Linked DNA regions of Homo sapiens: all the other regions are reported to be linked to region 1. Evidence: microRNA targets listed by miRTarBase, many of them from high-throughput screens and not tested one by one. Region 1 holds a microRNA gene; each other region holds the end of a gene's coding sequence. Distances are from middle to middle.

Region 1 (4,082 bases):
TGGGGGGATCCGAACTGGCCGAGATGGGATCTGAGGCGGGGCTGGGAAGAGGTCACTGTTGGCAAACACGCTCTGGGGTCCAGGCCGGGATGGGATTGGGGGCGCCGAGAAGGAGGCTGCTGCCCCCACGGGAACAGGAATCAGGGGGGGCCCTGGAGTGGGGCCCCTCACTGCTGGGGGCCGGCCAGGGGGGTGTATGCTGGACACCGGTCGGCGCTGTGGAGTGGGGCTGTGAGGAAGGAGAGGGTGTGAGCTACAGATACAGATGGAGTAGGAGCCCCCGCCATGCCACTGTGGCTGCCAGAACCTGAGGTGGGGGCTGGCTATGGGGACAGCGCAGGCGCAGTGGGATCCTCCCACCCCAACCTGAGCGCCAGTCCCACCTTCCCTTGCCCTCGGCCCCCTCAGGCACTTCCCACTCACAGGGCCCCCTCAGGCCTTGGGCCTGGGATCCACCCTCACAGCCAAAGACACTTCCAGAGTCCTCCAGATCAAGCCCTAATATCTCTAGGGGCCGTGGAACCTGCAAGCCCTGTCCAGACATCCAGATTCCCTCCTGGGCCTCAGTCCCTGCCACCTGCAGGCCTGGGTGCGATATCCTCCCCTTAAGGAACTCCATGGCTCCCCCAGGGCTCTGCAAGGCAGCCCCCTCTGAGGTTCCCTGCCCGACGGCCTCAATGGACAACTCAGGGGCGGCAGCAGCTCTGGCCACGCCTTGCGTTTGCCCCTCCAGAGCCTCCCATCTGCCCTTCTCTGTGCTCCAGGAGGCTCATCTCTCTCCTGTGGCTGCTGCCCCTCCAGCCTCTTACCCCAGCTTCCATTTGGGCTGTGCCAATGGAAGGCACCAGCAGAGGGCAGGCGGGGTATTTATTCACAGGGTCCTGCCCTAGAGCTGTAGGGCTGGCTCGCCCCCATACCCCTTCTCTCCCTCCTCCGGCCTCAGCAGGGCAGCAGCTCCCACAGTGCCCAGCCCTGGGTGCCACCCTTGGGCTGTGTCCTGTTTCCTGCCAGGACCCTGCAGGACACACAGGGAGGGCAGGAACCTGCAGGCCGAATGCTTGAGGGTAGGGGAACCAGGCTTCCGGACCTGTGGCTGCTGGCGCTCTGGAGCCAGGTGTCATCGACAGGCGGGGGTACAGGCGTGGACACAGTGCTGGTGCTGATGTCACCGATGATGTTGAGCGCCTCCTTGAGGGCATGGTACATGCGCAGCATGTCGTCCCGCCGCTGTGCCTGGTCAGCCGACTCCTCCATGAGGCTGCTCTGGTCTGCCGAGGAGTATAGGTAGGCCAGCAGCTCGTGGTGGATGAAGGCCTTCGTCTGCGGGCAGGGGTTGGGGAGGGTCAGGCTTGTGTATCACCCCAACCCAGAACCCACAGTGACTGCTGGAAAAACATCTCTCACAGGGCGGGGCCACCCCCAGACTTTTTTGAAAAAGAGTCTTGCTCTGTCACCCAGGCTGGAGTACAGTGGCTCAATTTCAGCTCACTGCAACCTCCGCCTCCCGGGTTCAAGTAATTATCCTGCCTCAGCCTCCCAAGTAGCTAGGACGACAGGCACGTTGACACCATGCTTGGCTAAGTTTTGTAATTTTTTTAGAGATAGGGTTCCACCATGTGGCCCAGGCTGGTTATGAGATTCTTATTCAACTTATTTCTAGTATCTTGCCTCTTCCATTGATGTCTTTTCTCCTGTTTTAGCTTATTTATTTATTTCCTTAACCTTGGCAGAATAATCCTGTTATATCTTTTTTGTTTTTGCTTTTTTTTTTTTGAGACAGTCTCACTGTCGCCCAGGTTGGAGTGCAGTGGTGCAATCTCAGCTCACTGCAACCTCCGCCTCCCGGGTTTATGCCATTCTCCTGCCTCAGTCTCCCAAGTAGCTGGGACTACAGGCGCCTGCCACCACGCCCAGCTTATTTTTTGTATTTTTAGTAGAGACAGGGTTTCACCCTGTTAGCCAGGATGGTCTCGATCTCCTGACCTTATGATCCGCCTGCCTCAGCCTCCCAAAGTGCTGGGATTACAGGCGTGAGCCACCGCGCCCAGCCAATCCTGTTATATCTTTATTTTTTTGTGACAGAGTCTCACTCTGTCACCCAGGCTGCAGTGCAATCTTGGCTCACTGCAACCTGCGTCTCCTGGGTCCAAGCAATTCTTGTGCCTCAACCTCCCAAGTAGCTGGGACTACAGGCGTGCCCCCCAACCCCCGGCTAATTTTTGTATTTTTAGCAGAGATGGGGTTTCACCATATTGGCCAGGCTGGTCTTTAACTCCTGACCTCAGGTGATCCACCCGCCTTGGCCTCCCAAAGTGCTGGGATTACAGGCGTGAGTGAGCCACTGCGCCCGGCTAATCCTGTTACATCTTCCACCTGGCTTCTGTTCAAACACTACTAGTTTCTGTTCATGAATTTTATACATTGTCCTTTCTGGAACCTCCTACTGGATACAGAAGTTTTTCAGTTACTTTTTTTTTTCTTTTTTTTTGAGACAGAGTCTCCCTCTGTCACCAGGCTGGAGTACAGTGGCATGATCTCCGCTCATTGCAAACTCCACCTCCTAGGTTCAAGTGATTCTCCTGCCTCAGCCTCCAGAGTAGCTGGGACTACAGACGCGTGCCACCACGCCCAGCTAATTTTTGTATTTTTAGTAGAGGGGGGTTTCAGCATGTTGGCCAGGATGGTCTCAGTCTCTTGACCTCGTGATGTGCCCGCCTCAGCCTCCCAAAGTGCTGGGATTACAGGCATGAGCCACCACACCTGGCCGTCACAACTTTTTTTTTTTTTAGATAGGGTCTCACTCCTATCACTCAGGCTGGAATGCAGTGGAGCGATCTTTGCTCACCGCAGCCTCGATCTCCTGGGCTCAAGTGATCTTCCTGCCTCAGCTTCCCGAGTAGCTGGGCCGACAGATTTATTATTTTCTTAAATAATAAAATATTTTTATTTTATAAGAGTCTATTAAAAATGGATAATTATGTCCCATCTTTGGCTGCTATAAAACATCATGGAAAACAATAAGCATGTATAAGCTCACTTTGCACGTGGGCAATTGTCTCTCTTAGAGAAGTTCCTAAAAGTAAACTTGCAGGGTCAAAGGATATATGCATTTTAAATTTCATAGCAGAAGAACCGTATATGTCTCCGATCCTATCGGTATATGAGGAAACATACCAGGACACCATGAAACTGTGAACACTGATCACTACTGAGAATGGGAGCAACAGGGTGGGAGGGCATGGCACGTGGGAGGTGTGTGTGTGTTTTAAATAGGGATGGGGTCTCACTATGTTGTCCAGGCTGGTCTTGAACTCCTGGGATCGAGTGATCCTCCTGCCAAGCCTCCCAAAGTGCTGGGAGTACAGATGTGAGCCACCATGCCCAGCCACACCCTGTGTGGGAGTTTTACTTAGATCCGCAGGTTTCTGTGGTTGACATTCATATACAAAACCCAAGACACTTTTTTTTTGAAAGAGGTTCCTGCTCCATCACCCAGGCTGGAGAGCAGTGGCGTAATCATGGCTCACTGCAGCCTCAACCTCCTGGGCTCAAGTGATGCTCTTACCTCGGTCTTCTGAGTAGCTGGGACTACAGGCATTTGCCACCACGCCCAGCTAATTTTTAAATTTTTTGTAGAGACTGGGGTATGGCTATGTTGCCCAGGCTGGTCTTCAGCTCCTGGGCTCAAGTGATCCTCCCTCCTCAGCCTCCCAAAGTGCTGGGATTACAGGCATGAGCCACTGCTCCGGCCCCAAAGCTGGTTTATAAAGCTTCCTGAGTGGCTAGTGCCATGCCAAAGGCCTGATACACAAGTGCCCTGAGCCCTCTAGCAGCCTGAGCTGGAGATACTATCAGTACAGCTGCATTTCACTGAAGAGGAGCCCAGAGCCCTGAGAGTCTCCAGGGAACCCGGGGCCAGGCGGGTGACGCCCATGAGGAAGAGGCTGGGCCCCAGATCATTAGGACACAGCGGCTGCCCAACACAACCCAAGGGTATGGTTGCAACCAGGGTAAACGTGGGTTTGAATCCCACTTCCCACTTTCCTAAGGAACTTGGGGCAGGTTACTTGATCTCTCTGGCC
Region 2 (4,087 bases), not on the chromosome of region 1:
TTTTCGATAAATGACAGCAAAACCTGAATGCAGGAGAAATGTATCTCATTTTAATGCCTGACTTCTAAGCATCCTTATTCAACATATTATATGTATTTTTTGTTTCATGAGTAAAATGTACATTGAGCTTCCTCCAGTAGCTGTCCATAGACCAGCCACTATCACTGCCATCATTATTTTGTTTCTAAACTTTTCTTTTTACACATGTAGGTCTAGCTTTTTCCTCCATATTGATGAACTAAAACTCACTCATTTCACAACTCAAAGCCAGGGCCTTCAGTTCACAGCCCGTTGCCTCAGACGGCCTTTCCTATATCTTATTGCTTCACTGTCTGACTCACTCCAGCGTGTTTCAGCCAAGTATACTTGTTTTTATTCATCTTGCTCTCTTTTCCTCCCTCCCCCAACTCCCCCTCTTTCCCTCTGTCTCTTTGTCTCTTTCTCTCTCCCCCATCCCTCCCTCTCTTCCCCTTTCTCTCTGGATGCCCTCTCTCCCTCTCTCCCTCCCTCTCTTCCCCTTTCTCTCTGGATGCCCTCTCTCCCTCTCTCCCTCCCTCTCTTCCCCTTTCTCTCTGGATGCCCTCTCTCCCTCTCTCCCTGTTTTTCTTCTCTGTGTCTGCCTGCATAATATTCAGAAATCCCAACAAGAGCAGCTGGAGCTGCTAAAGAAACCCCAGCGTTCTGTGCTGCTGCCATTGCCTCCTCCAACTGGTGAGCCCGATCGGCCCATTTTTAGGCAGTGCTGTGGTTGGAAATGGGCCCTTCCTCTGGGGTCCGCTACTTCCCTCCACCTGACTCAGAAGAATGAGTCAAGAGGGAAGAACAGCTCGTATTAGGGAGAGGGTCCCGTGTGCTGTTGCCTTTTTCGGAATCATTTCAATCATGTTTGCCAAATTCCCTACGAAGTTCTGTTCCCTCGTTTGACAATGAGCAGAGGCAGGAGAGATGAATTGCTAAATGGTTGTATCCCACACCGTGCTGGGAGGCTCAGCAGAACAGAGACCTGTGTCAAGCAGGGCTTCCTTCTCCACCAGGCCCTTCAGCCTGCATTTTAACCTGTGACTTGCGAGGAGATAGCCCGTGATCACACCACAGGCCTACTTACATGACAGGAAGCAAAATGCCAATTCCTTCTACCCCTTTCCCCCACCCCGGTAGAAACCCTGCTAGTTCTTTTTAAAAAAGGGAGAGAGATCATGTATAGAAAACCTTTTTTACAATTTATTTCCTGTTGTTAATCTTTAAAAATGAGGTTCTAGCTAAGTGCAGGGTTTCAGTGGTGAAATTTTGACCATGTGAACACATAAATAAATATTTACAGTCTTTGGCAAAACACATGACGTTTCATCAACCTATACGATAAATTTGTTTAGAAAAACATAAATAATTTACAAAAAATATGGTACATTCTAAATACTCACATCATCGTCACTCCCACACCATTGTACGGTTGACCCCACAACACAGAAACAGAAAACCTGCACGCTGTTGACAGTCGCTACATTTAATGAAGTATCCCAACGCTTCGTTGGTCTCGGGAATACAGCTCCACACGCAAAAAAGTAAAAAGTGCAGCAAAACAACAACACAACGATCAACCTCAAAGGAAACAACAAAATTAATTTTATCAAAATGCAATGTGTACATTAAGACTAAAGTTATGGATTGTTCCTGTTTGGCATAGAAATGTGATGACTATTAACAGAAAGGGGAAAAAGATTTGCCCCCTATCCATCATCAGACAGACAGACTTCTCTTACTAAACCCCTTATGTGGAGTGGGATGAGTGACTATTTCCTGCAGAAAGATCATGCAACTTAAAGCAAAAAAACAAACCAACCAACAAAAAAAACAAAAACAAAAACAAACTTGTGCATATTACACATGACTGATTATTGGGTGTGCCTGGCAAGACTAAATGCTGATTCTTTTCAGCGTTTGAATTAAAAGAATTCCATATACAGCAGATAGATAACAGTAACAAATATTGAACTAAAATCGCTGGCAACATTATATATTTAAGGTTCCATCATAAACTCCTCATTATTCTCTATGTATTCTGTTACAGCTTCTAGCATGCTTCATCGTGACAACCTAATATTATCAAGCCTCATATTTTCACAGGATTATATACTTATTAGATGTTTGTTTCTAGAAATTATACTACATATGTGTTACTAGGCATATTTAAAATAAGTTACTGGTAAATGGAGTTGCATTCTATAGTCACTTAATAAATATTAACAAAATATTTATAACTGGAACCTTAATGAAATGTATCATCAAATCAGGTAAAAGCAACTTGTCCGCAGTTACCAAAGCCTAGATACGCGTTAGATGCGCCTTTTCCGGCCTGTGCGTCTGCTCTGGTTCCTCTCAGGCAGCAAAGCTGGGGAAGGAAGCTCAGGCAGGAGCCTCCCCGACGCCACAGCGGCACAAGCAGCAGCTAAAGCACCGCACTTTGCTCTGCTAACCTTTTACTTAAATGAGGTTTTGCCAAATCCACATCTGGAACCGCGTCACACCCATTTGCAAGGATGTTTGTTCTTTGATGAAACTGCATCTCTACTGCACATGAGGGCTTTCATTGTAGGACAAGAGGAGAGTTCGTTTATTTTTGTAACTGTTTTACATGTTCCGATTAGTTAATCGGTAGCTTATGTCATTTGCTATGCCTGTTGTCTTCTAATCTCTCCTTACTAAAACATTACTTCAAATTTGAATTGACCCTTGTTTATAATTTATTTAATGGGATTTGTGTGTCATTGTAGAGCAACTCTAATTCAAGAATAGTGACAACTTTAAGCACCAAAAGTAGTTCAGCAATATTTTTCATGCTTAATTTATCATAATGGCTTATGCACAGTATTCCCTTCAACTCCATATACACATAAATACAATAAGTAATTACATTTTATATGTAAACGTCATTCTTTTTAAACAAACAAGAAAAAGCAATGTAATGGCATGCCCAATTTTCACTCCACATAAAGTCTCATATATCACCAAACTGGTTTCCTCTAGTGGGTTAGATGTTCATCTCTGAGTTCCATTGATATTTATCCTCTGAAGGCACTTGGGTTTGGGGTTGCTGGCAGGAGGTGAAGAACCATCAGAGTTAAGGTCAAGGGACAGGAGGTGCTGCTAGAGAGAGAAGCCACAAGGACCACAATGAACTGAGGTGTCTAGGGACCATGGCATGCACAGGGCATTGCCGGAAATGCAGCAAATCTTGTTTAAATATCTACAAAAAGAAAAAAAAAAGCAATAAACAATTAGCATAACTGGGCCATGGGTAGTGATTTATTTTGTTTTACCTAGAACCAGAAATATAATTACTTTAATTAAAGATGAGATCTATCATATGGATGGATGGATGGATGGATGAAATGGATGGGTGGATGGATGAGATGGGTGGGTGGATGGATGAGATGGGTCGGTGGGTGGGTGGATGAGATGGATGGATGGATGGATGGATGAAATGGATGGGTGGGTGGATGAAATGGGTGGGTGGATGGATGGGTGGATGGATGGGGTGGGTGGGTGGATGAGATGGATGGATGGATGGATGAAATGAGTGGGTGGATGGATGGATGAGTGGGTTGGTGGATGAGATGAATGGGTGGATGGATGATGAGATGGTTGGGTGGCTGGATGAGATGGATGGATGGGTGGATGGATGGATGAAATGGATTGGTGGATGGATGAAATGGGTGGGTGGATGGATGGATGAGTGGGTTGGTAGATGAGATGAATGGGTGGATGAGATGAATTGATGGATGGATGGATGAATGAGATAGGTGGGTTGGTGGAGATGGATGGGTGGGTGGATGGATGAGATGGATGAGTGGGTGGGTGGGTGGCTGAGATGGATGGATGGGATAGATGAGTGGGGGTGGATGAAATGGATGGGTGGATGGATGGATGGATGAGATGGATGGGTGGGTGGGTGGATGGACTAGATGGATAGGTGGATGGGGCTGGGTGGATGGATGGATGAGATGGGTGGGTGTGTGGGTGGGTGGATGGATGAATGGATGGATGGATGAGATGGATGGTTGGGTGAATGGATGAGATGGATGGGCGG
Region 3 (4,087 bases), not on the chromosome of region 1:
AACAGCATCCCAAGGCAGAAGAATTTTTCTTAGTACAGAACAAAATGAAGTCTCCCATGTCTACTTCTTTCTACACAGACACGGCAACAATCTGATTTCTCTATCTTTTCCCCACCTTTCCCCCTTTTCTATTCCACAAAACCGCCATCGTCATCATGGCCCGTTCTCAATGAGCTGTTGGGTACACCTCCCAGACGGGGTGGTGGCCGGGCAGAGGGGCTCCTCACCTCCCAGACGGGGCGGCCGGGCAGAGGCGACCCCCCACCTCCCGGACGGGACAGCGGCCGGGCGGAGGCGCCCCCCACCTCGCTCCCGGGCGGGGCGGCTGGCCGGGCGGGGACTGATCCCCCACCTCCCTCCCGGAAGGCGCGGCTGGCCGGGCGGGGGCTGACCCCCCACCTCCCTCCCGGACGGCGCGGCTGGCCGGGAGGGGGCTGACCCCCCACCTCCCTCCCGGACGGGGCGGCTGCCGGGCGGAGGGGCTCCTCACTTCTCAGACGGGGCGGCTGCCAGGCGGAGGGGCTCCTCACTTCTCAGACGGGGCGGCTGGGCAGAGACGCTCCTCACCTCCCAGACTGGGTCGCGGCCGGGCAGAGGCGCTCCTCACATCCCAGACGGGGCGGCGGGGCTGAGGTGCTCCCCACATCTCAGATGATGGGCAGCCGGGCAGAGACACTCCTCACTTCCTAGATGGGATGGCGGCCAGGAAGAGGCGCTCCTCACTTCCCAGACTGGGCAGCCGGGCAGAGGGGCTCCTCACATCCCAGACAATGGGCGGCCAGGCAGAGACACTCCGCACTTCCCAGAGGGGGTGGCGGCCGGGCAGAGGCTGTAATCTCGGCACTTTGGGAGGCCAAGGCGGGCGGCTGGGAGGTGGAGGTTGTAGCTAGCCGAGATCACGACACTGCACTCCAGCCTGGGCAACATTGAGCACCGAGTGAACGAGACTCCGTCTGCAATCCCGGCACCTCCGGAGGCCGAGGCTGGCGGATCACTCGCGGTTAGGAGCTGGAGACCAGCCCGGCCAACACAGTGAAACCCCGTCTCCACCAAAAAAATACGAAAACCAGTCAGGCGTGGCGGCGCGCGCCTGCAATCGCAGGCACTCGGCAGGCTGAGGCAGGAGAATCAGGCAGGGAGGTTGCAGTGAGCCGAGATGGCAGCAGTACAGTCCAGCTTCGGCTCGGCATCAGAGGGAGACCGTGACCATGGAAAGAGAGGCAGAGGGAGACCGTGGGGAGAGGGAGAGGGAGAGGGACCTTGGTTTTCTTTCTTTTCTTTTTCTTTTTTTTTGAGATGGAGTTTCATTCTTGTTACCCAGGCTGGAGTGCAATGGTGCGATCTGAGCTCACTGCAACTTCCACCTCCTGGGTTCAAATGATTCTCCTGCCTCAGCCTCCCAAGTAGCTGGGATTACAGACGCCCGCTCCCACGCCTAGCTAATTTTTGTATTTTTAGTAGAGATGGGGTTTCTCCATGTTGGCCAGGCTGGTCTCGAACTCCTGACCTTGAGTGATCCACCCACCCCAGCCTCCCAGAGTGCTGGGATTACAGGCTTGAGTCACCGTGCCTGGCGCTTGGTTTTCTTATAATCTTCATTATTCTTTGCTGTGCCTACCTTTGTAATTTGTAGATAATGGAATGTGTCCACCCGGACTTTGATGATGTCCTGCATTGTTTCAATAAACAAGAAATGGTTTTCCCAGAAAGGGATTTTCTTTTCCCTCTACCTATGCCCTGCACATTCCATCTGGACTTGTCCAAAATCCCTCTGGTTCCCACGAATGCCCCACTGTCCACAGTCCCCACATTAAGACCCCCTTCTGCCATCTCTCAACAGCCCCTGGCTAAAAACATTCTCCAAGCCTACTTGCCCCCTCAATTCTACCACTGCCACCACTTATGAAAAGGTCCGGTGGTCACAGCCCACCTCCGACGGGTTCCTCCCTTCTGGTTTGACACCTCTATCCGTCGCAGCCCCATTGCACCTTCTAGGTTTTCTTGGCACCTCCAAGTTCCACTTGGCCTGCAGGGTTTAGCTGTTTCCCCAGCAATAGTGGCCCACAGAGGACAACCTTCCTTCACCCCCTAGTTCAGCCGAGTGAAGGCCAACATATCTCAAAAGGAATTTTGCTGGAAAATGAAGAGAAGGCAACACATAGACCCTGGGAAATGGAAAGACACCGAAGCAGAAGCGTTGGAGCCTAGAGATTTTTCTATCCTATGTACCTCTTCCCTCAGACTGGCTCCGTGGCTGCGTGGAGGGCTCCCCTGCTCTGACACTCATAACTTGGTATTTATTTATTTATTTATTTATTTATTTATTTATTTATTTTAACACTTGATCTTAGCTGAGAAGTGATGGATAACCTGCTTTTTCTGTTGTTTCTGTTTTTTTTTTTTTTTTTTTTTTTCGAGATGGGGTCTGGAATGCAGTGGTGCGATCATAGCTCACTGCAGACTCAAACTCCTCGGCTCAAGGGATCCTCCCACCTCAGCCTCCTGAGTAGCTACGTTGAAAGGCATATGCTACTACACGCAGCTAATTTTTAATCTTTTGTAGAGATGGGGTCTCGCTATGTTGCCCAGGCTGGTCTCAAACTCCTGGCCTCAAGCAATCCTCCTGCCACAGACTCCCAAAGTGCCGGGATTATAGGCATGAGCCACTGCGCCTGGCAGAGCCTGGTTTTTTTTTAATACTTAATCTTAGCCAAAAGGCTGAGAAGCGATGGAGAATGTGGATTTTTGGACGTGAATTCTGTTGGGTTTGGTTTTCCAGTAGCCTATTCTCTTCGCAGCCTTTGAACCTAACACCTCTTTGGCCCCAGCTGCTGTCTGCACTTGCAGACCCTCCTGCAAGCTCACCCTGTACTACCGCCGGGGGATGCCGTGATCAAGGAGCATCCTGCCTGTGGCTGGCAGAAGAGGCCATTCACTGCCCATTCGAAATCTCAGGCCTCCTCTGACTCTGTAGGACCCTGTGCCAGTCCAAGGGGGGCCGGGGTCTCAGCTCTGTTCCACAGTGCACACGCCTGACCCACCCTGGGCCCTTCTTGGCCCCAAGACTCTCCCTCGGCTACTCTATCAGGAATGGTTTTGAAGAATGCAAAGCAGGACAGGCTCACAAACCTCAGAAACCTAAACTATATAGCAGCGGCGGTGGTGGCAGCAGCCACCCACAAAAAGCAAGAGGCAGGTGAACTCCCAGCATCCCCCTCCACCCACCTGCCTCCTCTGCTTCTGAGAGTTAAGGTCACGCCACCACCTTGGTCCCTATTCTCACACACTAGAAGACGGGTTAGCAGTTTGGCACTCCATGTTGAAAAGTTGCCAACCCCTGCCCTTCAGGAAAATGTCCTCGGCCTCCACCTCCCACGGACAGCTCTGCCTCCTTCCTGCCCTCTCCCTCCCCACTCCCTCTCACCCTAGTCCTAGCCCCTTTAACTGTCCGGAGAACGGACCCGAAAGATGTGGATGGTCCCGTTACTGAGGGACACGACCAGGTACCTGCCATCCACCATGGTGGTAACCCGGGGCTTTTCCAGGCCGTGGTAGGCTGTCAGGAAGTCTCCAAGGAGGGACCCCTTCGGGTCCAGGATCACCACCTTGTTGACTTCTCGAAGGGTCAGAAAGATGTAGCCCTTCTTATCCACAGACACGGAGCCCGGCTGGCAGCCATGCAGGCCTGGCCCCTTGTACTCCCCAACCACCTGGCCCAGCCCATCACAGATTACCACACTATTCTGCTGCCAGTCCGACCCCACGAAATGCCCCTGGGGGCTGGTGGTCAGAAACACCAGCGCCCGCAGGCCCCGGCTGGCCTTGCCTCCAGGAATGAACCGGGTGGCCAGGCTGCCTTCCATATTGTACACCTCCACGTGGCCCGCCACGCTGACAGCCACGCGGTCCCCGCTAGGCAGTGCCGCCACCGCGTGGCTGGCCTGGGAGAGGCTCAGGGCCCTGCGCCACTGCACTTCGCCGTTGGGGTTGATGAGATAGAGCCGTGCGCTAGCGGAGAAGGCCACCGCGCTCTGCAGGGCGGCCACGCTGCAAGGGGAGCAGCCCTCAGGGACCGGCACGGTGCCCT
Region 4 (4,087 bases), not on the chromosome of region 1:
CATTCATTCCCTCTTCCATTCATTCATTTTTTTTTTTTATTCAGCCTATGTGTACTGAACATCTTTTATGTGCTAGACACTGTTCTAAGAGTGAGAATACAGCAGTCAACAAAATAAATGAGTTCCTTTTGCTGCAGTGGACATCAAAGTCTGCTCATAGCAGGAGGCTGCAGTGTGGATCCCAGTCCCACCCCCTCTTCCTGCCTCTCTAGCTGTTACAGAGCTTTATCCCAGCCCCATACACTAGATGACCATTCCTAGTCCATGCCCAAGTGGGAAAAGTTCTGGGTTCAAATCCTGACCCTGCTGCTTCCTGGCAGTGTGCCCTTTGGCAAAACACTTAACCTCCCGAAGCCTCAGTGTTTTCATCTGTGAAATTGTATGATTCTGTCGTAGAAGTTCGTCTCTGATTATTTTCATCTTTGAAAATATTAGTAGCCTATATTGCAGGCTCATCTCAGGCTTAAATGGGATCAGGTGTGTGGCAGAGCCCAGCATATAGTAAGAACTCAGTTAACAGAAATCTCTTCCATGTCTTCTTGCAGAAGACAGGAACAGTTCATCTCAAGCCACCTGGCCCACTGAGAGGGTGTCATTCACAACGGATGACATCATCATGTCCTTGTGACCTCTCACCACTCTCTCCCTTCTCTCCCCACTCCAGGCTGTGACCTTTGGACATCGGGACGGCGCCCAGCTGCCTGGGCTCCCGTCACCTCTCCCTCCCTACTCTGTCCTCTGCCAGCTCAGGAGGCCAGAGACTCAGCATCAGAGGGTACCAACCCCGACCGACCTGGGAGCACTGGACAACTGCTCGGCGGCCTCCCTGCACCTCAGACTTGAGCCCTTTTCCTCGGGCAGGGTTGGGGACCCCCGAGCTAGGACTGAACCGGACCAGCCAGGGTGATGCGTTATTGATCAGTGCGGCCCAGGGGACAGCACTAATGAGAGCACTGCAGGCTGCACGTGGTGCCTTTGGGCTATGGGACTAGGACAGGAGACCCCACGTGGGGGGGCTCACAGACGGGGCTATGTGTGTGTGTGTCTGTGTGTTTGACGTTGTTCACTCTTGTTTCCCCTTGACAAGCAAGAGCCAGACTGTCCCAATGACGGGGCACTCCTCAGTTCTGTCTGTATGTGGTAGGTTCCAGCTGTACCATCTGGGAAGCTAAGAGGAGGGTACAGAGCCGAGTGGCAGCTTAGTCAAGGCTACTGAGCCAAGATCGAGCAGGGAAGGTCGGGAGTGGCTAAGCTCGTTCCTTTGGAAATATCTGTTTTCAGACACCCCAACCCGAGCCTGTCATGGCGTGTGGCACCTTTGCATAGAGCTCTGAAGTACAGTAGGAAAGTTAGAACGTCTTTTGAGTTCTGGGTCTCTCTGGGGGACCTATTCCCCCATTTCTGCTGTTTTCTCCTGTTCTCTGAGAGTAGCATCCCTTTTCACCTCACTGCCCGCACCTCCTTGCCATTTGGAAAGCCAAGATGACTTCTGAGGGGCTCCTTAGAGCTCACCGTCATTCAGGGCACCCCCTGAAGTCTGGTCCCTGAGAATCAGGGCTCTGGGCAGGGAGTTCTAGGACATTCCTTTTCTTCCCTCTTCTCTGCTACTCACACCAGTGAAGCTTATTCCCCCACCAAGGTGGATGCGGGTTCTTGGGGTACGTCCATGTTGGGTTATGTGGCTGTACCTATGATAACACGTTTGCAAAAGATTTCCCTGCCTGTCACCCTTGAGGAGTCCTGTTGGGGGAGCACAAAGGGAGGATGTTTGTTACACTTCTGCGTTCTTTGCTCTAGCCTGGTGCGGGGTCCTCAAGTAGCTTCCCCATCGGAAGCCTGTGTCCCTCACCTGTGTGTGTTCCCTCAGTGCCCCACCTTCCCTCCCTCCTCTTGATCCCAACCTGGGCCGGCGACTCTTCCTGACCATGTTGGGGAAGCCCCTGGTGTTCTGTATCTGTAGGAAGGATGCCGAGAGCAGGCTGGGCATGCAGATGGGAGAGGAGAACCTCTGGGTCATTTGCCCATGTTTTCAAAGCCCTGACCCCCTGCATGTGACCTGATACAAAAGGGAAATCTGTCCCCAAGCAGAGCAATAGCAGGATTATCTGGGCAGTGAACAGGAAGCCCAGGGCGGCCACAGCCCCTCTGTGTTTCCTGGGTACTACCTGGGCCTTAGTTTTCTTGTAGCTACTATCTATCCAGGCATCTCCCTCCTAGAGGGCCAGAGAGAGGAACTGGAACTTCAAAAACCCTACCTGATCTTACTTTCAAAATCCAAATAGACCTATGAGGATCTCTTCCCCACCTTGGGTGACTCCCAGACTGGTTCATGCTCTGGGGGCCAAACCTGCTTCCAAACCGGGAAGAATGGTGAGATCAGTCATGCTTCCCAGGAGCCTGGCTACAGGAAACCCCTGTGTTTCCCAAAGGGCCCTCCTGAATTGCCTTTCCAACACTCCCAGCTTACTGGGACTAGAGGACTAAAGACCCCGGCTTGGGCTGCTCCTAAGCAGACACTGCTCTTCTGGGGACATCTATGGCTCTTGGCTTGACGACGTGTGTGTGTCTTGGAGGCATTTTATATATGTTTGCCTGAGCCCCAGCCACTCTGGGGTTGCTGGGGATGGCTCTTGTCAATGGACACCTCCCCATCCCAACACAACACTCTGTGTCCCAGCCCTGGGCCTGGACTTGCACCTGTCTTGGCTCTGCCCAGCAGCCTACTGAGTGCCTGAAACCCAACCACTCACTTCTCTTCCATCACACCAGGACTTCTTGGGTCCACAGGCTCCAGTCCTTGTCATGTTCCCTTGTGCCAAGAGACAGGATATGAGGAAGGGAAGAGGCAGCCAGGGTCTACTACCCTGCAGCTGAAATGTCCACAAGAACTGGCACCTTCTCACTCTTGCCTCTCTTGTTTCCAGAATTAACTAAAATGTCCAACCACAGCCTTTGGCAAGGCCTAGCATGATCTCCAACAGCTGATTTTTCCATTCATTCATGAGCACCAGTTTGGGATTAAGGACAGGGCCTGAGTGATCCAGGGGAAAACCCAGCCCTTTGTGGAACAGGGTGCCTTGGGTCCATCCCTGAATCTGAGTCACTTGCTCTTGACTTCTCGATCTTTCCCCACTTCACTACTCTGTCCCCACCTGCATTGGTCTCTGCTGCAGCCAGGCCAGGATCCTGGCCTTCAGTGCCTTCCTGACGCCCCTACCCTGTCCCCTCTACACCGCCCTGACTTGTTGAGAAACCAGCTTTAATTTGCACACATTTAAATCCAGGAAGAACCAAACCGCTGCTTTCCCTGCTGGCTTCCATCTTTATTCGCTGATGAGGTTTTGGGAGGAGGTTATATTCATCTTACGCAGGGAGGAAAAAAAAAGAGGAAAGAGGCTGTATATTTTTACATCATAATTACCAGCCTCACCTGCAACTCATTCTATACAATGACACGACCAAGATTTGTGTGTTTGCCCTTGTCCCATCACAGCTGCACACAGGTGCCCTGTACACATAAGTCACTGACTCAGCAGCGAGTTGTTCCAGTCAGTCTTGCTTTTAGCAAACCGTCATATACATGGGCTTCCCGAGGGGACCAGTCCACAGGGTGAAGATTCACCAGGAAGCCTTGGCTTTGCAGAGAGAAACATCTCAGCTTTCTTTAAAGGGCATGTGGATTTGCACATAAATTTCACCCAACTCTTCCAGGATACAGATTATTCATAAAACCAAGGAGCTTCCTTCTTGGCCCCCTGTGGGAGGACGTGCCCCTTGTGTCCCCATCCCCAGAGCCAAGCTGGAAACCCAAAGTCATTGCTTAGATCCATTTTGTCCTGGTATTCCTTTTACTGATCAAAGAGAAAATTTTCATCTTGCCATGGACCCCCCCATCCTCACCCCATCCACTTGTCTCCACAGCTACCTTGGATTGTCAGTCAATAGAAGCCCTTGACTGATATTGACCACTAGACTTTTGTATCCAGGGAACCTAGTTCTTCCCTTTTTCTCACCTCCCATGCCATATACACACATCATGCCCCTCCCCACAAACACACGAAACCAGCCTTATCTCACCTTCCACCAT
Region 5 (4,087 bases), not on the chromosome of region 1:
CCCTCACACTACAGCAGGCCCCTCCCTTCCCTCTTCAACCTCATCCTCCCTCCCCACAGGCCCAGAGAACCAGTTGGGCTTTGTTCTCCTGCAGGCTATGGTTCATCATGCAAATAGCTCCTGTGTCAGAAATGCTTTTTGGCTTCAAATAACAGAAAAGCTAACACCAGCTTTATCAATAATAATATCGGTGGTTTACTTAAGGTGTCCAGAGATGGTGGAGAACAGGATTGGTTTCCTCCTCAATGTCAAGGACTCAAAGACTCTTTCTGTGGTAGGGCCACATCCTAAACCCTGTATCCTGTGATTATTTACCTGACAGGGCAAAAGAGATTTTGCAGATGCAATTAAGGTTAAGGACCTTGACGTGGGAAGATTGTGATTATTTACCTGACAGGGCAAAAGAGATTTTGCAGATGCAATTAAGGTTAAGGACCTTGACGTGGGAAGATTATTCTGGATTATCTAGGTGGGCGCAATTTGATCACATGGGTCCCCAGAAGTGGAGAACCTTTCCCACCTGTAGAAAGCCAGAGAGCTGGCACCTGAGAAGGACAGAACTGTCATTGCAGGATTTGAAGATGAAGGGGCCCATGAGCCAAGGAATGCCAGTGACCTATAGAGGCTAAAAAACAGCAAGGAAATGGACTCTCCCCAGAGCCTCCAGAGGAATGCAGCCCTGTTGATCACATGATCACCAGATGGCTGCCCCAGAGCCAAATGTCGCTTCCTGAGCACCATACTCAAAGGCAGGGGAAGTGGATGGAGGGCAGGAGCTCCATTCTTGTTTGCCACTCTCCTTTTGTCAATTGGGAAAAAATTCCAGAAACTCTGGGAGCCCTCCCCTTACATTTCCTGGGTCATGGGGCCAGCCCTAGCTGCTGGAGGGACTGAGAACAGCTGTTGAGCAGTTTACCTGACGGCATCTGCCATGGCTTGGCAGGAACTCTGGCTTTGGGAGAGAGCAGCAGCAAGGTATTCAAGCACCACCTCCACCCAGCCCCTCCCACATTTCACTCAGGACTGAGTAAAGGAGACACTCAGATGCTACTCAGATGCTGGCTTCAGCTAAGTATTTTGCAAAGCCTCTCGTGTTCTTACAAGTTTGTGGCTATCATGACAAAATGGAGCAGCCTACTATATCTACATATACAACTATGGGGGACCTAGTTTTATCTCATTTACCACAATGTTTTCAATCATTTTTTGGATGACATAATTTTTAGCCTCTTCTCTAAATGCTTCCTCAAGCTTTCCTTGCCTTCCAGCCACTGCAAATGACTTGCAGTTTCCCCTACATGGCACCTGACCCTTGTGCCTCCCTCCCTCTGCCCATGGCCCAGAAAGCCCTTTCCTGTGCCCTCTGGCTTCCTGATAAACTCCTATCATCTTCAAGAGCCAGTTCCCATGCCAGCTCTCCCCAAGTGCTCCACTGAGGCTTCCGTAACACCTCTGTTCCCACATCGGGTTGACTGTCTTTGTTTTGTCATTGCTTGCTCTGGCTGTGTCTCCCTCATTAGACTGGGATGCCTTCAAGGTAGGGACCCTATCTGGGTCAGCTTGGCACCCCAAAGCGTACCACAGCACCTGATTCTGAGGAGGCTCTCAGTAGATATCTGTTGAGTAACCAGAATGTAGGGTGGTCCTGATGGTTTCTGACATTGAATAGAAAACAGCTCCCTATTTGATCTTAAAATAATCACTATAACCTGGACATACTGTACTAGATGCTGTTTTTGTCTGACTTCTACTCTGTCAATCTCTTTGCACCTCCATTTGTTCATCTGTGAAATGAAGAAAATGCTCATGGAGTTCAGTGAAGATTAAATGAATGAATATAGGTAGACTGCCTAATCTGGCACTTGCCACGCAGCTGACTTCAATATAGTAGCTCTAATATTATGGTCCTTGAGGATCTTACTGTCTTATGGCCCAGAACTGCATTTGATTAAAGAAGGCTCCCCTAAAAAAAGAGTCATACATATTCCATTTGTCCTTTCAGAAGGCCGTGAAGCATTTACACTCTTTAAGACAAATTCCCATCCAAAAATAGTTAAGATTTCTAAAATATTTTGATGCTGAAAGAGGTGTGCTTCAGTTGGGTGGCAAATTTGCTTCTATGGAAGATTTTTAATACAGGTTGTTTCTATTTTACTTTTTCTGGCTGAAAGGATTTTACATTTATTCAAAGTCAAAAGGGAAAAGAAATCCAAGAACTACAGAAGAGCAGTTGAAGTGATTTATGCTTGATTTCTAAATGCAACTTATGTTTATACATAATTTAAAACTCAAAGAAAGCATGCTTATACAATCATGTGCAACTTTAAACTTTAAGAACTCTGGATGAATACATGGTGGCAACAGTCCATGACACCTGAAAACATCATTTGTGGAGTGGCGTAGAGTTCAGTGTTCGCAGTCGCATATTACAACCATGTTTCACACAGCCCTGCTCGGTTTGATTTTCTCCACGTGGTTGATAATTGTCTTCAGTTGCTGCTAAGTGATTTTGCAAATTTCATTTATAATCCTCGCCCTACAATTACCTAAGTACTGTTTCTGCAGGTTAACCTGTATGCTACGCTCAGTCATATACCTTTCAAAGTTACTAATGCAACTGCCAAAGAGGGACAGTGTCAATATCATTGTCTTCATTAGAAGGACGGCTGCCCCACACTGTGAGAACACTGCTGTTCCTAACAGTAGTTTACTTTTAGAGGGATGTGAGAATTAGTTTGACCTTAATTCCAGATGTGCATGCCTCAAAAGAAAAATCCCATTCTCCTTCCTTTTGGGGAGCACTTTTGGTGGCACCAAGGCTGGTGTGGGGTAGTGGAGAGAGCACTGAGCTTAGAGTCACAACCAGATGAAACTGCTCTGGTCTTCACTAGCTGTGTGACTTGGGCAAGCAGCTTGCAGTCTCTGAGCCTCTGAGATCCCTGATGGACGAGGAGAACAATGACCCCCTCCCCAGGCTGTGCTGAGAGAGGGAATTGATCTTGGATATGAAAATGCTGCCCTGGCACAGAGGTAGGAGCTGAGCAACACTGCTGGATGAATAAACACATGTAATGCAGGGTGAACAGAACATTTCATCTGCAACAGCTGAAGGCACAGCTTACCTATGCCCATGGAAAGAACTGCGTGGAAAATTCATTTGTTGCATTTTTGCCAGGTTGATGTTTGCAAAGCAGGGCACTCTTCTCCACATTTCCCCAAAACCAATCAGAGGGAGACTCCACATTGTTTCCATCTCCTCCCCTCAAACAATTATCAAAGCCATGTAGAACAAACGGCTGTCTGCCAACTGGTAGAGGCAAAGCAGCCAATAATCTGGACAGGGGTGGCAAACTGCTCCTGCAGTTTAACCCTGCCTGACTCTCCCAAGCACCAGACTGTGAAGCCTGGAGAACAGCCTGGGGGAGCTGAACAAATGCACAACACCTCATGCTGTCAAGCCAGAGGGGAAACTTACTGGGAAGAAGATGTAGGAAGAAGCCTGGTCAGCCCACGCCTAAAGCACACACCTGGGGAAATAAATTAGCTATTTCTATTGCACATCTACCCACAGCCTGGTCCAGATCTAAATCTCTTCCCCTCCCAGCAGTGCAGCGGCGGCAGCCGCAGGCTCCCTCAGCGCCATCTCTTCAGTCAGGCTCCTCTCCAGGTCCTCCAGCTCCTGGCGCACCTCCTCCATGAAGCTGCCAACTTCATACTCATCGGGGACCTCTCTGGGCAGCAGGATCTCCCCATCTTGGTCACGGCTCCCCACGAAGGTCGGCTTGCACACATACACCAGGCTGTGGCTGGGGAGAGATGGGACAAAGCCAGGCTCTAAACGTGGGAGCCTGCCCAGGCCGAAAGCTAAGGCGCCCTGACTCTGTGGGGCTCCCAGCCTCACCTTCATGCCCCCTCCTCTCCTGTCTCTTCAACAGAGACACTTCACTTCCCGTCAACATCTATCTTAAAATGATGGCTGAGGGAGGCTCACTTTGGGAGAATGTGCTGGTGGGGGGCAGCTTCCCCTCCTCCAGCGCAGGCCTGACCTCCTGTGACTCTCAGGCCCCGCAGCCCAGGGGCAGGACCT
Region 6 (4,087 bases), 27 Mb from region 1:
TCAAATGTTTGTTTCCTTTTTTTTTTCTTTTTCTTTTTTTCTGAGATGGAGTCTTGCTCTGTTGCCCAGGCTGGAGTGCAGTGGTGCAATCTCAGCTCACTTCAACCCCTGCCTTCCAGGTTCAAGTGATTCTCCTGCCTCAGCCTCCCAAGTAGCTGGGACTACAGGCATGTGCCACCACACCCAGCTAATTTTTGTATTTTTAGTGGAGATGGGGTTTCACCATGTTGACCAGACTAGTCTTGAACTCCTAACCTCAGGTGATCCTCCTGCCTCAGCCTCCCAAAGTGTTGGGATTACAGGCATGAGCCACTGCACCCAGCCTTCAACTGCTTATTTCTAAATAGCTTCTGAGTGTCCTGTGTTGGTAAAGTTAATATCTCCCAACTCCTAGATTGTACACATAGGCTCCTTTGATTTTCTTTTAAGAATTCTGTTGCTTTAAAATTTTACGTCTTAAAGCCACCCAGAATTTATTTTTGTGCTGTTAATCCAAATTTTCTTCCTTTAAGATTAAAAGGTTCTGTTCCAGAATTCTTTTTAAGTAAACTACTCTTTTCCCCTGTGGTTTCAGATTTCACCTTTTTCACATATGAAAAAGTTCATATATATCGAAGTCTATTTCTGAATTTTCTACTGTGTTCTAATGATGTATTTACCTGTTCCTTTGCCAATACAATATTAATTTCATTAGAATGGCTTCATGTTATCTTCTGGTATCTAGCATGGCATTTTAAAAATTTTTAATTATTATAGATATATAATTGTTGTATATATTTATTGGGTACATGTGATGTTTTTATACATGGTATGATTTTTTTCATATATTTTTTTCAATGATTGTCAAAAAATCATTGAGATTTAGTGTAATTCCAAAAGAAGTACATATAAATTATGTTTTCTTGTCAGTATGGAGAACAGCTCTTGATTTTGGTACCCTGTCTTCTTAGAAAAGTTAACTCAAAAAATAGTCTTTTCATTTATTGGTGTACAACCATATCATCAGTAAAAATGGATAGTTTTACCTTTTCTGCTGTTTATACCAATTCATTTCTTTTTATTGCCTTCACTGGAATCTCTAAGCCAATATTGAATTCCTGATTTTAAAAAATGGCTTTGGCATAATATATGCTTTGGGGTTTGGGTTAAAAAAAATTTTTTTTAAGAAAAACCGCTTTAAGTGGTTCCCATCTATTACAATGTAAATTAACACATTCTATGAAATGCCTTCTCAGTATCTGTTGAGAGTTCATATGATTCTTCTCCTTTAAACTGTTAATTTGATTGATGCATTTCCTATTAACTGAACTGGTTTGGCATTCTTGGGATGACTCTTACTATGTCACTCTTTGGGTATATGGCTGAATTCTATTTGCTAGTATTTTAACTATAATTTTTGTTTCTATATTCATGAGTAAGACTGGTCTGAAGTTTTCTTTTTTTTTTTTTTTTTTTGACGGAGTTTCGCTCTTGTCACCCAGGCTGGATGGCACGATCTTGGCTCACCGCAACCTCTACCTCCTGGGTACAAGCAATTCTCCTGCCTCATGCCTCAACCTCCCAAGTAGCTGGGACTACAGGTGTGTGCCACCACACCCGGCTAATTTTTGTATTTTTAGTAGAGATGGGGTTTCACCATCTCGAACTTCTGACCTCATGATCCACCTGCCTCGGCCTCCCAAAGTGTTGGGATTACAGGCGTGAGCCACCGCACCCAGCAGAAGTTTTCTTTTTTCAACTATCTGTATTTGATTTTGGTGTTAAAATTTATTCTGACTTAATAAAATAAATGAGTACAGTTCATGGATTGTATTACATCCATATAATAAATAACACTGGTATTACTCTTTCTTTAAAAGATAGAACTAAGCATGAACTCTTCTGAGCCTGGAGCATTTTCCCATTATAGATCTTTAATAGCTTTTTTGAGTTTTTCAATGTTAACTATCCTACCAAGTTTTCTACTTCTTATTGCAGTTTTCATAACTTAAGTTTATTAGAAAAGCATCCACCTCCTCTTTTTAAAAAATATGTTGATTAGAGTTGTATGAGGTATCTTTTTATCACTTAAAAAATCATATTGATATCTGTGGTTATGTCTCCTTTCTCATTCTGGATCAGGCAGTCTTACATGGAGGGAAATCTTGAAAAATGTAGATTCCACATGGCCATTTATTTTCTAATATGGATGACATAGCAACTCAGGGAAGCAGACTTCTTTCCAAACATTGAAATAATTAAAACCTTGGGATTTAGTGTCTAGGACACTTGCAAGGAAATTTATATGAAAAAAATGAATATTCTTGAATTAATTTGCAGAGGGATAGAGAGAAAAGAAATTCTCCTTCAGTGGTCTACGCATGAAACATTTCTGAGTTATACAACCTGTATATAGAATAGTGTATCTAGAATAGTGTAGCAATGCTACTAATTTGCTACAAGATATTTTAAGCAAGACTAAGAAAATATGAACAGTGTACTGTACACCAGGGTGACACTACATTTTGTCAAATAGTTTACAGTGTTTCATTTACCCAGTATCAGGTTCTTAAACTATTCCTTAGCTTGCATTTTTAATATAAATAACTACATTTTAGTAAAATTTTTGGCCAAATTATCCAAATACATTTAAAAACACTGCTTTATTATTTCTGCAGAGGACAGTAACAACCTCTATAGCCATTTACATGTATTACAAAAAGGTGGAAAAATGTAGCTGGTATAATAAAGTTCTTTTAACAATAGTGGGCCATGTTGTTGTTATTTTTTTGTATTGTTAAGACATCAAAAGACAATGATGATATTTAAAGTGGAAAAGTTTTCTGAATGGCATTCTATATGTTGTGTGACATGTGTCTGATATTCACATTTTATGTTAATTTCACATTTACAACTCCAAAATACAAATAATGCTGATTGTATGGCTCACTGTGGAATATACCAGAGTATGCCTTTAAGTCTCTTCACAGATATTTTGTATTCTGCTGTTATTCCATTTAATACATTTTTAAACGTTTACATGCCAGGGTGTCCATGCTTATGTTTGAGAAAGTATTTTCTAGAAAAGTTTGTATCACAATTAGATCATGATTTCCATTATGATACAACACTGTCGGTTGGGCGCGTTGGCTCATGCCTGTAATCCCAACACTTTGGGAGGCCAAGGGCGGGGGGTTGGGGGGTATCACGAGGTCAGGAGTTCGAGACCAGCCTAGCCAAAGAGACCAGCCTGACCAACATGGTGAAACCCCATCTCTACTAAAAATACAAAAATTAGCCAGGCGTGGTGGCAGGTGCCTGTAATCCCAGCTACTTGGGAGGCTGAGGCAGGAGAACTGCTTGAACCTGGGAGGCTGAGGTTACAGTGAGCCGAGATAGTGCCATTGCACTCCAGCCTGGGAAACAGAGAATACAACTCAAAATAAATAAATAAATAAAATAAAAACACACTGTTCAAATTCATTAAAATGATAAGATTTCTCCTAAGGATAAATTCCCTACATACCGGCCAGGCGCGGTGGCTCACGCCTGTAATCCCAGCACTTTGGGAGGACAAGGCGGGCAGATCACAAGGTCAGGAGATCGAGACCATCCTGGCTAACACGGTGAAACCCCGTCTCTACTAAAAATACAAAAAAAAAATTAGCCGGGCATGGTGGTGGGCACCTGTAGTCCCAGCTACTCGGGAGGCTGAGGCAGGAGAATGGCGTGAACCCGGGAGGCAGAGCTTGCAGTAAGCCGAGATCGCGCCACTGCACTCCAGCCTGGGTGACAAAGTGAGATTCCAACTCAAAAAAAAAAAAAAAAAATTCCCTACATACCATGAAACCAGATATTTTGCTCAAGTATTTCCCACAATTATTAAGTTTTCATTCCTGTAGGCATTCTTCCGAGCATGAATTTTCTGATGTCTGCTGAGGTTTGGCTTCTGGTAGAAAGCTTTCCCACATTCATTGCACCCATAGGGCTTCTCTCCTGTGTGAGTTCTCCAATGTTTATTGAGGCATGACTTCTGGCTGAAGGATTTTCCACATTCTCTGCAACGATACGGTCTTTCTCCTGTGTGCATTTTTCGATGTACATTGAG

The links. Region 1 holds the annotated microRNA hsa-miR-6793-3p (UCCCCAACCCCUGCCCGCAG, at 1,321-1,340, opposite strand). A microRNA usually pairs through its seed, bases 2 to 8, with sites in the 3' UTR of a target mRNA and lowers its output. Matches are read on the target gene's strand: a 7mer-m8 pairs with bases 2 to 8, a 7mer-A1 pairs with bases 2 to 7 and ends in A, and an 8mer does both.
Region 2: miRTarBase lists THBS2 as a target of hsa-miR-6793-3p. The part of its 3' UTR that is shown has no 7-base or 8-base seed match.
Region 3: miRTarBase lists TRIM56 as a target of hsa-miR-6793-3p. The part of its 3' UTR that is shown has no 7-base or 8-base seed match.
Region 4: miRTarBase lists KSR2 as a target of hsa-miR-6793-3p. Seed matches in the 3' UTR shown: 8mer at 863-870, 7mer-m8 at 1,743-1,749 and 8mer at 1,928-1,935.
Region 5: the mRNA of DKK3 is a reported target of hsa-miR-6793-3p. Seed matches in the 3' UTR shown: 7mer-A1 at 3,213-3,219.
Region 6: miRTarBase lists ZNF793 as a target of hsa-miR-6793-3p. The part of its 3' UTR that is shown has no 7-base or 8-base seed match.

The regions. Positions count from the first base shown.
Region 1 is chr19:10,826,274-10,830,355 of GRCh38, reverse strand. It overlaps MIR6793 (microRNA 6793), which reads right to left and starts at 1,383; the gene lies at 1,321-1,383. It overlaps DNM2 (dynamin 2), which reads right to left. Exons shown (of 21, transcript NM_001005361.3): 19 at 1,088-1,320; 20 at 1-229.
Region 2 is chr6:169,214,586-169,218,672 of GRCh38, forward strand. It overlaps THBS2 (thrombospondin 2), which reads right to left. Exons shown (of 22, transcript NM_003247.5): 22 at 1,200-3,244. The coding sequence ends at 3,237. The region is part of intron 2 of THBS2-AS1 (THBS2 antisense RNA 1); the gene reads left to right. Among named protein-coding and RNA genes, the nearest start is that of THBS2-AS1, 3.4 kb to the left of the region's middle.
Region 3 is chr7:101,088,934-101,093,020 of GRCh38, reverse strand. It overlaps TRIM56 (tripartite motif containing 56), which reads right to left. Exons shown (of 3, transcript NM_030961.3): 3 at 1-4,087. The coding sequence ends at 3,441. Among named protein-coding and RNA genes, the nearest start is that of TRIM56, 5.5 kb to the right of the region's middle.
Region 4 is chr12:117,463,783-117,467,869 of GRCh38, reverse strand. It overlaps KSR2 (kinase suppressor of ras 2), which reads left to right. Exons shown (of 20, transcript NM_173598.6): 20 at 665-4,087. The coding sequence ends at 671. Among named protein-coding and RNA genes, the nearest start is that of NOS1, 100 kb to the right of the region's middle.
Region 5 is chr11:11,960,881-11,964,967 of GRCh38, forward strand. It overlaps DKK3 (dickkopf Wnt signaling pathway inhibitor 3), which reads right to left. Exons shown (of 7, transcript NM_001018057.2): 7 at 2,156-3,806. The coding sequence ends at 3,584. It overlaps USP47 (ubiquitin specific peptidase 47), which reads left to right. Exons shown (of 28, transcript NM_001282659.2): 28 at 1-1,007. Among named protein-coding and RNA genes, the nearest start is that of DKK3, 46 kb to the right of the region's middle.
Region 6 is chr19:37,537,634-37,541,720 of GRCh38, reverse strand. ZNF793 (zinc finger protein 793) reads right to left here. Exons shown (of 8, transcript NM_001013659.3): 8 at 1-4,087. The coding sequence ends at 3,842. The region is part of intron 1 of LOC124904708; the gene reads left to right. Among named protein-coding and RNA genes, the nearest start is that of ZNF571-AS1, 9.3 kb to the left of the region's middle.